Regions from separate parts of the Homo sapiens genome. Here region 1 is linked to region 2. A link means that fine-mapping ties the variant in region 2 to the expression of a gene that starts in the linked region. Tissue or cell type: whole blood. Region 2 holds a variant in brackets; the other region holds the start of a gene. All regions are shown on one strand. Distances are from middle to middle.

What was found. PIP is the estimated chance that this variant, and not a neighbour inherited with it, causes the effect.
Region 1: PFKM starts here. The variant in region 2 is fine-mapped to the expression of PFKM in whole blood (TOPMed, PIP above 0.99).

What each region holds. Positions count from the first base shown.
Region 1 is chr12:48,116,960-48,121,961 of GRCh38, reverse strand. PFKM (phosphofructokinase, muscle) reads right to left here and starts at 2,598. Exons shown (of 23, transcript NM_000289.6): 1 at 2,556-2,598. RefSeq lists an enhancer at 2,933-3,002.
Region 2 is chr12:48,146,206-48,152,582 of GRCh38, reverse strand. It overlaps PFKM (phosphofructokinase, muscle), which reads right to left. Exons shown (of 23, transcript NM_000289.6): 23 at 6,179-6,377. ASB8 (ankyrin repeat and SOCS box containing 8) reads left to right here. Exons shown (of 4, transcript NM_024095.5): 3 at 1,278-1,382; 4 at 2,585-4,794. The coding sequence ends at 3,217. Among named protein-coding and RNA genes, the nearest start is that of ASB8, 8.1 kb to the left of the region's middle. The variant A/C (reference allele first, on the strand shown) is at 4,298.

The sequences.
Region 1 (5,002 bases), 30 kb after region 2:
TCTCAAAGGAACACACAAGAGGACGTATTTTTGTATCCATAAAATGCCAGTAGAATTATCACTCTCCCAGTTTTTCAGGCTAAAACCTGTTATTTTAAATTTATCTCCTCCCTTCCTCTCAGATTCAAAACAGTAACTAAATCCTATTATTCTCCCTTCTTATTATCTTCCTTTATCCATCCCCTCCTTTCTATCCTCATTGCCATTTTCCACCTGAACTGCTTACTACAATAGCTGGTTTCCCTGTGCTTGTGTTCCTTTCTTCACTCTATTAGACACACAAAATAAACCTTCATAGGAAGGTCATAGGTCCCTAGGCTTCAGTGGAGATGTGTATTCATTCACAGGAACCCAAGTTTTACGGGCAGCTTGTGCTTGCTTCTACCCTGCATTTGGAGAACTCAGGGTAGCTGCCTATAGAGACATAAGTCACATAAACACCCAAATCCACACAAATAATAAAATAATGCAATGAGACATATATGAAGACATACATTCACAAACATGCATTGTGTTAACAGACAGAGATTAATGAACGTACTACATATAATCAGTACTAACAAATAAGGTCCCAACTTGTTGGGTTGGCATTCGAAGCTTCTACAATTTAGCCCTTGCATATAGCTTCAACTGTTGGTCCTATAGATTCTCTGCTCCATTGTCACCTGAACATTACTTTGCTCTTCCCACTTTAGTGCCTGGGCACACTGCATCCCTTGTCCAGGTGGCTACCCTGGCCCTTTCCACAGATTCACATCCCATTCCATCATTTAAGACCAGTGATAGTTGTACCCTTATTAAACCTTCACTGATTACCACAGGTCAAGGAAACCTTCTTTTGGACTTCCTCTAACCACATGTTGTCTAAACTGGATCACTGCCTCCCAGGTTCAAGTGATTCTCCTGCCTCAGCCTCCCGAGTAGCTGGGATTACAGACATGCACCACCACACCCGGCTAATTTTTGTATTTTTAATTGAGACGGGTTTTCACCATGTCGGTCAAGCTGGTCTTGAACTCCTGACTTCAGGTGATCCGCCCACCTTGCCTCCCAAAGTGCTGGGATAACAGGCATAAACCACCATGCTCGGCCTGCTTTATGTGGCATTTTAATAGTTTCGTACGCACTGATAAGAGGGTTGGACTAGATCAGGGGTCAGCATACAACAGCCTGTAGGCCAAATCCAGCCCTTCTCACATTTTTGTATGGCAGTAAGCTGTGAAAGGTTTTTATATTTTTTAGTGGTTGCAAAAAGTACTTCATGACATGTGAAAAATGTTAAGTTCAAATTTCAGTATGTGCACTACCTTCGTTCATTCACGTATTATCATGGATGTTTTTGTGCTACAACAGCAGAATGGATATTGTGACAGAGACTCATAAGCCTGCAGTTTAAAATATTTACTATCTGGTCTTTTACAGACGAAGTTTGCCAACCACTGGACTGGATGGCTGCTAAAGTCATTTTTCCTAACTAGACTGAGAACTCCTCCAGGGCAGGGATCATGATCATTTTTAAAAACTCTCCCACAGCTCACTAAAGACTTGCAAAGTCTATGCACATTACAGGACCCCAATAAATACTTGTTGAAAACGTTAATGAACTGATGAACTACATGAAATACAAATATATGAAAAATGTAAAATCGGCTTAGATACAGATATACCTCCATATTCTACTTTAAAACACACTTTTAACTTGGACTTGAGAAATCATATAGTGACAAACAGTGAAAGGAACATAGAGACACGCGTGACTAGAGACGCTCTTATTTAACTGGAATGTTCATGTCCAAATTTCTGCTGTTTTCCAAAAAGAAAGATTAAGTGACTAGGGCAAATAGGAAGGCAAAAAGGTGGAAAGGAAAAAACAAGACATCTGGGTATGCTGATCCCTTTCCTCCCGTTTTTTCTTCTCATTCACTCTTGGAGCTCATGACGGGGGCAGAATCCCACACAGAGCTCTTCCACCCCTGGAAGCGTCAGTGAGGGAGAAAATTCGCCATAACAAGAGGAGTTTAAGAGTGCTGACCTGTAAAAACCGCTCATATTCTTCTCCTGAAATCTCTAAGACAGTTATAGAGGCACAGGACACAGAAATTCATGCAGACTCATGTATAAGCATCCCTTACAGACCCACAATGACACGCACGTAGACAAAAACAGACAGATATTAAAACATATCTCTAAAATCACGTGCGTATATAAGCACGCGGCAGGGAGGAACAGAAAAGCAGCATCATAGGAGCACTGATTTGAATTGGGTGAGTGCCAGGGTAGGGTCAGGCAGCCAAGGGCAACCCGTCCGAGCCCCACCCACCCATCCCAGATTCCTGGGGAATGCAGCTGAGCCTGCAAGCGGAGGGGACTGGCCAAGGGGCTAGGATCCTTCACGACTGCCCTGCCCATCCCCCTCTCGGCTCCAGCTTAGGATGCCGTATCTCTTCTTTTCCTTTCTGCTCCTTTCAGTTCTCCCTACCGCCTGCTCCCGGCCCATACCTTCCCACCTCACTCCCAGCTCTCCCCCTTGCTCTTCACTCAATGGCCCCTCTTGCCTTTTAGTCTTAGCTCTCCTCCGCCGCTGCTTTCTTGCAGATTGTCCTTGGGAAAGGGGGGAGGGGTGATGGACGAACATGGGGAGGAGCCAGGTGGAGGCAAAGAGGGAGGGGGAAGGAGGAGAGGCTTCCCAACCTCCACTAACAGATGCTGACAAGAAGGCTCCGCCTCCTCCTGCTTGCCTTTCTCCTCCTCTTCCTCCTCCCCCTAAGTACTCAGCTCAGATATGGCAGCGGCTTAGTTCCTTCACTCCCCAGAGTCCTGGGGTCCTCATATCTATCTCGAGAGCCATCAGCATCTTTATTTAATGGGAATAATAAATTATTTCGTTGCTTCTCTTGTTTTCAACACAGAACTTTTTCCTAGTCCAGACTGCCTGAGACACCTTGCATTCCAACATCTTCAGCAACTGCTAATAAAACCTGCCCCTGTGGCCCTCTATCCGTCTTTAAGCAAACATTTCTTGGGAGTCTGTGTGCTAGATTTTGCATTAGGTGCCGAGAGGTTTAAAAAAAATAAATATAGTCCCTGCCTTTGAGGAACATTGAATTATGACATCTTCTATAGAATAGCCTCAAAAACTTCTTTTACATTTACATTACCTTTCTCAGAGAAAGTACAGAAAAGCTAGCTATTTGGAATGAAAGTGTCAAGAGGGAAGGGCGTGTCTGTGAGGCCACTTCTCAAGCCTGCAGTGGGGAGGGATGGGGGCGGGATTCTGGCAGTGAAGCAAACATATAAATTGGGCTTCACAGCAAACAGGATCCACTCTGGAAAAAGGGTCAGATGCTCCCAGAGCAAGAGGTGCATCCATTACTCAAGTCTCACCTTCCCTTTGCTTCATTGTCTCCACAGTCGGGTCTCCTCTTGCTTTTACCACTGCCCTCTTCCTCTTGCTTACTTGTATCTCTACCTCTGCACATTCTGGCACAAACAATACAAATGCAAGTGACTAGGAGATAAAACCCCATTTGACTACACAAAATAAAAGCATTTGTTCTCCAAATTATACCATCAAGAAAGTGGAAAGACAACCCACAGAATGGGAGAAAATATTTGCAAATCATGTATCTGATAAGGGGCTGGCATCCAGAATAAATAAAGAACTCATTTGCAACTCATTAAGAATGTAAACCAAAAATAAAATTATAAGCCCCTCAACCATCTGAATAGACCCCTCCTCTCAGTCAAGGGTATTCCAAAGTTAATCTGAAAAACTAGTTCAGACGTTGATGGAAAGGGGAAGCCAGACACACTTCATTATATGCTCCTCCCTTTTGGAATTACTGATAGAACAGACTCTTTAAGTCTGATAAGAAACATTTACAATCTATTCTCTGAAACCTGCTACCTGGAAGCTTTGTCCACCTGATAAAACCTTGGTCCTCACAGATTGCTTTTCTATTAAGTCTTTGGACAATAACTTAACTCTTTTCACCAATTTCCAATCAGAAAATCTTTGAATCTACCTATGACCTGGAAGCCCCGCTCCCCCCTCCCTGCTTCCAGTTATCCCGCCTTTCTGGACTAAATGAATGTACATCTTACATATATTCATTGATACCTTATATCTCCCTAAAATTTATAAAACCAACTTGTGGCCCGACCATCTTGAACACATGTTCTCAGGATCTCCTGAGGGCTGTGTCATGGGGGAGCTATTGGTCACTCGTATTTGGCTCAGGATAAATCTCTTCAAATGTTTTACAGTTTGACTCTTTTCAGTGACAATAAAAAGAAAATACCTCAATTTAAAAATGGGCAAAAGAGTTGACCAAAGAAGATATACAGGTGGCAAATAAACATGAAAAGATGTCAACATCATATGTCATTAGCGAACTGCAAATTAAAACAGTGAGACACCACTACACACCTATTAGAATGATTAAATGATTAAAATTCAAAAATCCAAATGCTAATGAGAATGTGGAACCACTGGAACTCTCATTAATTGCTGGTGGGAATGCACAATGGTACAGTCACTGTAGAAGACAGTTTGACAGTTTTTTACAAAGCTAAATATTGTCTTACCACATGATCCAGCAATAGCACTCCTAAGTATTTAGCTGAATGAGCTGAAAATTATGTCTGCACAAAAAACCTGCACATGAATGTTTATAAAAGCTTTATTCATAATTGCCAAAAGCTGGAGGCAACCAAGATGTCCCTCAAAAGGTGAATAAACAAACTGTGATACAGCTATACAATGGAATATTTTCCATCAATAAAAAATTATCAAGCCAGGAAAAGACATAGTGAAACGGGCCAGTGTGAAAAGGCTGCATACTGTATGATTCCAACTGTATGACAGTCTGGAAAAGGTAAAACTACGGAGACAATAAAAATATCAGTTGTTACTGGGGCTTGGGATAGAGAAGGAGAGATTAATAGGTGGAGCACAGGGGATTTTAGGGGCACTAAAATGATTCGGTATGATGCTATAACA
Region 2 (6,377 bases):
CTCTAAAATGCATGGTAATTATAGTTTAAGAAAACACCTTAACCATCGGATGTTTAATCATGGCCCTTCAATAATTGTTATGTGACTAGTATCCTAGAAGGTCTTTACTATCCTCTTCTATTTATTTTTCTTGTTGAAGAGAAGTTACACAGTTTTTGATCACCAGAAAATGCATCCAGATGGTTACTTGTGTATATTCTAAGACTTCAGGCTCGTCATTTACAGCCTAGATCTCTGTAGCTGCTTCAGAGTTATTGGACACAACTGAAGAAGGAAAAGTCATGCAGTGTTAGCTTATTGTCAGCAAAAGTAGTGTCAGGAGACTCCGCGGTAGAAACCTTGTAACATTCTAATTCTAGCTCTGCTGCTGAGTCATTCAGTGACTTTGGTCTGACTGGTATCTCCATCTCCCTTGATTTTTTTTTTTTTTTTGAGACGGAGTTTCGCTCGTCGCCCAGGCTGGAGTGCAATGGCGCGATCTTGGCTCACTGCAACCTCCGCCTCCCAGGTTCAAGCGATTCTCCTGCCTCAGCCTCCCGAGTAGCGGGGATTACAGATGCCCGCCACCACACCCAGCTAGTTTTTGTATTTTCAGTAGAGACCGGGTTTCACCATGTCGGCCAGGATGGTCTCAAACTTCTGACCTCAGGTGATCTGCCCACCTCAGCCTCCCAAAGTGCTGGGATTACAGGTGTGAGCCACTGTACTCGGCCTCTCCTTTGATTTTGAATAGAAGCACCAGCAAAGGCTAGATGGTAAAGAATACTGATACTAAGAGGCTACTTTGAAGATGTTTATAAAAAAGGAAAAACCGTGTTAAGATGATGCCACTATTAATGATGGTCATTTGTTGAATGGACAAAAGAGCATGCCATTTCTGGCCTCAGTCTGACAGACTCACTTTCCTACTTTTCCAGAGCATGGTGGCCATAGAAAGTGGATTGCTGGTCCAGCTTTCCTGCCTGATGATAAGGTTTCCAGTGCTTTGATACATAAGATTGTCTTCAGTGATGTCCAGGTGACCATCTGGCAGCCTCCCTTGTGGAGAAACTTAGTAACTTGATCTAAGGAATTAACAGTTCCTTTCCTTCATCTTCAGTGTACTCCTTTGGTTTGGACATTGACATAATATTAATAGAAAAGGAAACAGGAACTAGCACTGTATCTATAAAATAGTGAGAGTTAGAACTCTCTGTCCCCTGGACTCAGTTCTGAATTCTGTCCTGCTGGGCAAGCCAGAGCTGAACACACTGACTGAAGTTGTCTTCTGCCCACAGGGAGCAGATGTGAACTGCACTCATGGCACACTGAAGCCCTTGCACTGTGCCTGTATGGTGTCAGATGCTGACTGTGTGGAGTTACTTCTGGAAAAAGGAGCCGAGGTAATGTTTTTAACACATTCACATTAATGACTCACTAAAACTTGAGCTTCATGTTTTCTTAGAATTTCTCCCCATCACTCCTCCATCTCTTCCCTCCTCCAGTCTGAACTTCTAACTCAAGGTAATGTTGGCATAGCCAATATTAAGGAAAATGTAATGGTAAATATATAAAATGATCTAAGGATTTCATTCTTTTACCTTTCTGTCCCCACCCTGCTTGCCCCCATTGTATGGTGCTGATACTCTGCCTTTCTTTCTTCTCCTTAACTTAAGCTGTCACTGGCCATCACTTCAGGAAGCTTACCTTGTAGGGGCTGTTTATATTTCCGTTTAATCTTCTCATTGCTTATTGTCTATCCAGGAGATATAAATGCAGAGATCCCTCAACTCTGATTAAATCTAAAGTACCCTTAAAAGTACTTAAAGTACTTAAGAAGTGGTACTTAAGATAGGTTTTAGCCAAATAAAAGGTTGAATTTACTTAAATGTTTCAGGGTTTTTTTTTGTTTTTGTCTTTCATTAATGAGGGTATATGCTATTTGGAAATTTGAAGAAAAAAACTACAGGTGATGCTGACTGTCAGCAAGCCAGCTGCTTTTCCAGCACTGGGAGATTTGTGCTCTTCCTATCACATGCTTTCATTTGGGTTCTCTTGTGAACCCACAGCATATTTTTGCAAAGGTCTGACTTATATTCTAACATTTTGAATTTCTCTGTATGGTTAAAGAACTTAGCAAAAGCTATGTTTTTCAGTTTGGTTGCTACATTAGCCACAGGGTACAGAAAGGGTCAGGGTAAGTAAAATAATCCAAAACTCTGTATAGTCAAGCAGCTTTCCAGTAATGTTTCAGAGCAGTTACGGGGACTTAGACTTCCTCTATTCCTGCCTTACCCCTTACTCTGTGGTAGAGATTCTAATGAATAGATAAAAGAACATTGCAGCAAAAACCAAAATAATGCAGACCAGCTAGTCAGTGCACATAATAGTGTTGACTGTTTGAGGACAGTTCTTTTCCTTTTTGCTCCTAAGCTCCTGTCATATCTTCATCTTTATCACCAGGACTCCCTGGGAGTTGCTTGCTGACCCTCCTGTTCAGAGCACTGCATAGCAAAGGTAGTGGGTAACCATGCAAGCTTCTTTGCTGCTGTCCTGTCTTCCTCTCAGTAGTCTGTCTACTGTAATAGTTCCTCCCTTTTTACAGGTGAATGCCCTGGATGGGTATAACCGAACAGCCCTCCACTATGCAGCAGAGAAAGATGAGGCTTGTGTGGAGGTCCTATTGGAGTATGGTGCAAACCCCAATGCTTTGGATGGCAACAGAGATACCCCACTTCACTGGGCAGCCTTTAAGAACAATGCTGAGTGTGTGCGGGCTCTCCTAGAGAGCGGGGCCTCTGTCAATGCCCTGGATTACAACAATGATACACCGCTCAGCTGGGCTGCCATGAAGGGAAATCTTGAGAGTGTCAGCATCCTTCTGGATTATGGCGCAGAGGTCAGAGTCATCAACCTAATAGGCCAGACACCCATCTCCCGCCTGGTGGCTCTGCTAGTCAGGGGACTTGGAACAGAGAAAGAGGACTCTTGCTTTGAGCTCCTCCACAGAGCTGTTGGACACTTTGAATTGAGGAAAAATGGCACCATGCCACGAGAGGTGGCCAGAGACCCGCAGCTATGTGAAAAACTGACTGTTCTGTGCTCAGCTCCAGGAACTCTAAAAACACTCGCTCGCTATGCCGTGCGCCGTAGCCTGGGACTCCAGTATCTCCCCGATGCAGTGAAGGGCCTTCCACTGCCAGCTTCTTTGAAGGAATACCTGTTACTTTTAGAATAGCCGGAGAAGATGTTTGCACCATCGTGCAGGCAGCTCTGGGTGAGGTTGTCCCTGCAGTACTCCTTGTCACAGAAAACAGAAAAACAGTTGTTCCTGTTGTGTGGTTTATAGATTTCGAAGCAACATGTCACAACAATAACCTCCATAGCACCTCCCCTTCCCAAACCAAACAACCCAACAAAAAAAATCCCTCACTTTTGTTTTCTGTTTATTGCTTACCTGGCTTTTTATATTGCATTTTGCAAAAGAAGAGGTCTCCCTCAATCCTCCCCTTTAGGGAAGGAGTCAACAGTGTAACTAAATTTCTCTAGGAAGATGGAAAGTACTTAAATAATGTGTGTGTGGTTTTCCTTTGGGGACGTGGTTAACGGTCCAGAAGAATCCCTTCTAGAAAGCATTTTAGGCCAGCCATGGTGGCTCACGTCTGTAATCCCAGGACTTTGGGAGGCTGAGGCAGGTGGATCACCTGAGGTCAGGAGTTCGAGCCCAGCCTGACCAATATGATGAAACCCCGTCTCTACTAAAAATACAAAAATTAGCTGGGCATGGTGGCATGCGCCTGTAATCCCAGCTACTCAGGAGGCTGAGACAGAAGAATCGCTTGAACCTGTGAGGCAGAGGTTGCAGTGAGCCAAGATCGCGCCATTGCACTCCAGCCTGGACAACAAGAGCAAAACTGTCTCAAAAAAAAAAAAAAAAAAAAAAAACCATTTTAATTGATCTGTGAAAAAACTTAAGAAAATCACAATTTCAGCTAACAGCAATTGTGTCCCAAAGATGAAGATACTATAACCTCAAATGGTGCAGATCCAGAACTGGGCTGGATGACATCCCTACTGTGCCATGTCCTGGGGCATTTGGAAGGGACTGGACCTCTTTCCCCTCATCAAAGGAAACAGCAGTCTTTGCCTCTTTCTGTTGGTTGTGCCCAAGGGCTACAGTAGCTCTGAAATAACAAGAGCTCTGTAATAACAGTAATAAATAGCTCTGAAATAACAGTCCTAAGAACTCCTAAAGTCCTGAGAACTTTTCTTGTAATGCAGCTTTTTCTCTTCCTGAGAAACAGTGTGTTCTAATGGG[A/C]TTCCCAGGCAGTTCCTACACCTACGGTGTGTGTTCCAGCAGGGAGGAGTTATGGGCTGGGCTGCCTTTTCCCATGGGTCTTCATTCCCAATGGAAAGTTCACTCTGCTTAGTTTGGAATTATTTTTCTTTCAGTTGTTCTGGAACCTTTGCTTTTTATTGATTTATACAATACAATTGGTGGGAGGGTGGACTTGGGATGGGAGTGGGAAAAGCATGTAAGAGCTCCTTTTGTGATGGTCCATCTACCCAAAAGAGATCTGCTTTAGTGAACGATACTCTTTCATTTTTCTAAATTAGATCAAGTTGTTATTGATTTTAGATGACTTGTATGCAAATTTGAAAAACTTTTTTTTTTAAAGCTGATTGGGAACTACAAACAATGAATGGAATCTACTGACACAGCTAATTGGAAAACAGATGTCTTCTTCTGTCCTATTGATGCTGGTGTTTAAAAAACATCACTTAAAAAAAAAGAATAAATAGTTCTAAAAGCAAGTTTGGCAATTTCTACTTTTCCTACTTTTCTCCAACCCCCCTTAGAAAAAGTTCTTCGTTTACTGCCTGGCTGTTCTATGTAACTTTCCATCCCAACCTTTCTCCCATTAGCAGCAGTGATTCTGGGCATTGCTGGAGTGAACAGGAGGGCTTGGGCAGAGTATCTGAAGAGCTTCCCCTTCCTTTATACCTTCTCCCACCCCAAATTTGGAATTACTGCTTTTATGTTCTCAACTCCAGCTGCACATAAAATCACTAAGGAAGCTTTTTAAAAACACTGGTGCCAAGATTTCACCTCATACCAATTCTTTGGAATTTTCTGGGGTAGGACTGGGGGCTTCAGTGCTTCAAATATAGCCAGGAATGAGATTCCACTGTGTTAGTCAGTGGTTCTCAATCCTAGTTATTAATTAGAACCACCTAGGAAAATTTTTAAAAATACTAAAGCCCAGGCTCCACCCCCAGAGATTGATTTAATTGGTCCAAAGCAGACCTAGTAGGGCTGGCCACAGTGGCTCACGCCTGTAATCCTCACACTTTAGGAGGCCGAGGTGGGAGGATCATTTGAGACCAGGAGTTGAAGTCCCCATCTCTACAAAAAAATAAATGAATAAAGTAGACCTGGGCATGAGTACGTTCAAAGGTCCCAGGTGATTCTAATATTCTGGTAGATTTATAAACTGCTTGAGATGCTACTTCATTTCTCATCATAGATACTTAATATTCTAGAAAGAGAAAGTTTTGTCCATGTGGGAAAAAATGTTACCTGTTTCTCAGTTACTTCATAATCACTTATGTGGTTGGTGGCTAATAAATTCTGCTTCACCTCCACTTAAGAGTTCAAACACAATTTCACTTATCTTTTTAGCTCTGGGGAAATAGCATGCACCTTCATAGGTTTTTTTTGTTTGTTTTTAAGTGGTCTTCACTATGCCTTTTTTTCCCAGATCGTATCATCATCCTAAATTTTTTACTCTTTACAGAGTGACATTTTCCCTCTGATTAACTTTCCCTGAGCCATCCTTCCCTCTTCATTTTCTTGAGGAAACAGCTCTAAGATTAAAGACAGGAAAGAGACAGAGAACCTATAAATCAATGGCAATTAGCATTTAAAATGTTCTGAATGAATGCCTGAACCTTCCCTTTCACTTTGTTTTCATAGGCCTTATGGCTCTGGGGATTTGATATGGCATGATAAGGAAGCAGGAATGGGGAATGAGGATGAGGTTTGAAGTCAGAACTGAGTTTGAGTTCTACTTGAATAATATTGAAGGAGACATTATGTAATCAATCACCTTGAGCTCCAGTGTCCTCCTTTCTGAAGTCAGGCTGTCACCATTGCCCTCCAAAAGCTACTATGAGGATTCAATGATGAAATGCCTACCACAGTGCTTGATATTTATTGTTAATTTCTCTTCCCACTAAAGAACTGTGCAAAGAGTATTTGGCTGCCTTATTCCCTGACTCCAGCAACAAACCTTCTCAGTCACTATTTAGAACTGTTTTTAGAGTTTGGCAGTGACAATTTTTCAGACAGCCAGCAAGTAGTGTACTAGAGATAATCCCTTCCTCCACCCCCTGTG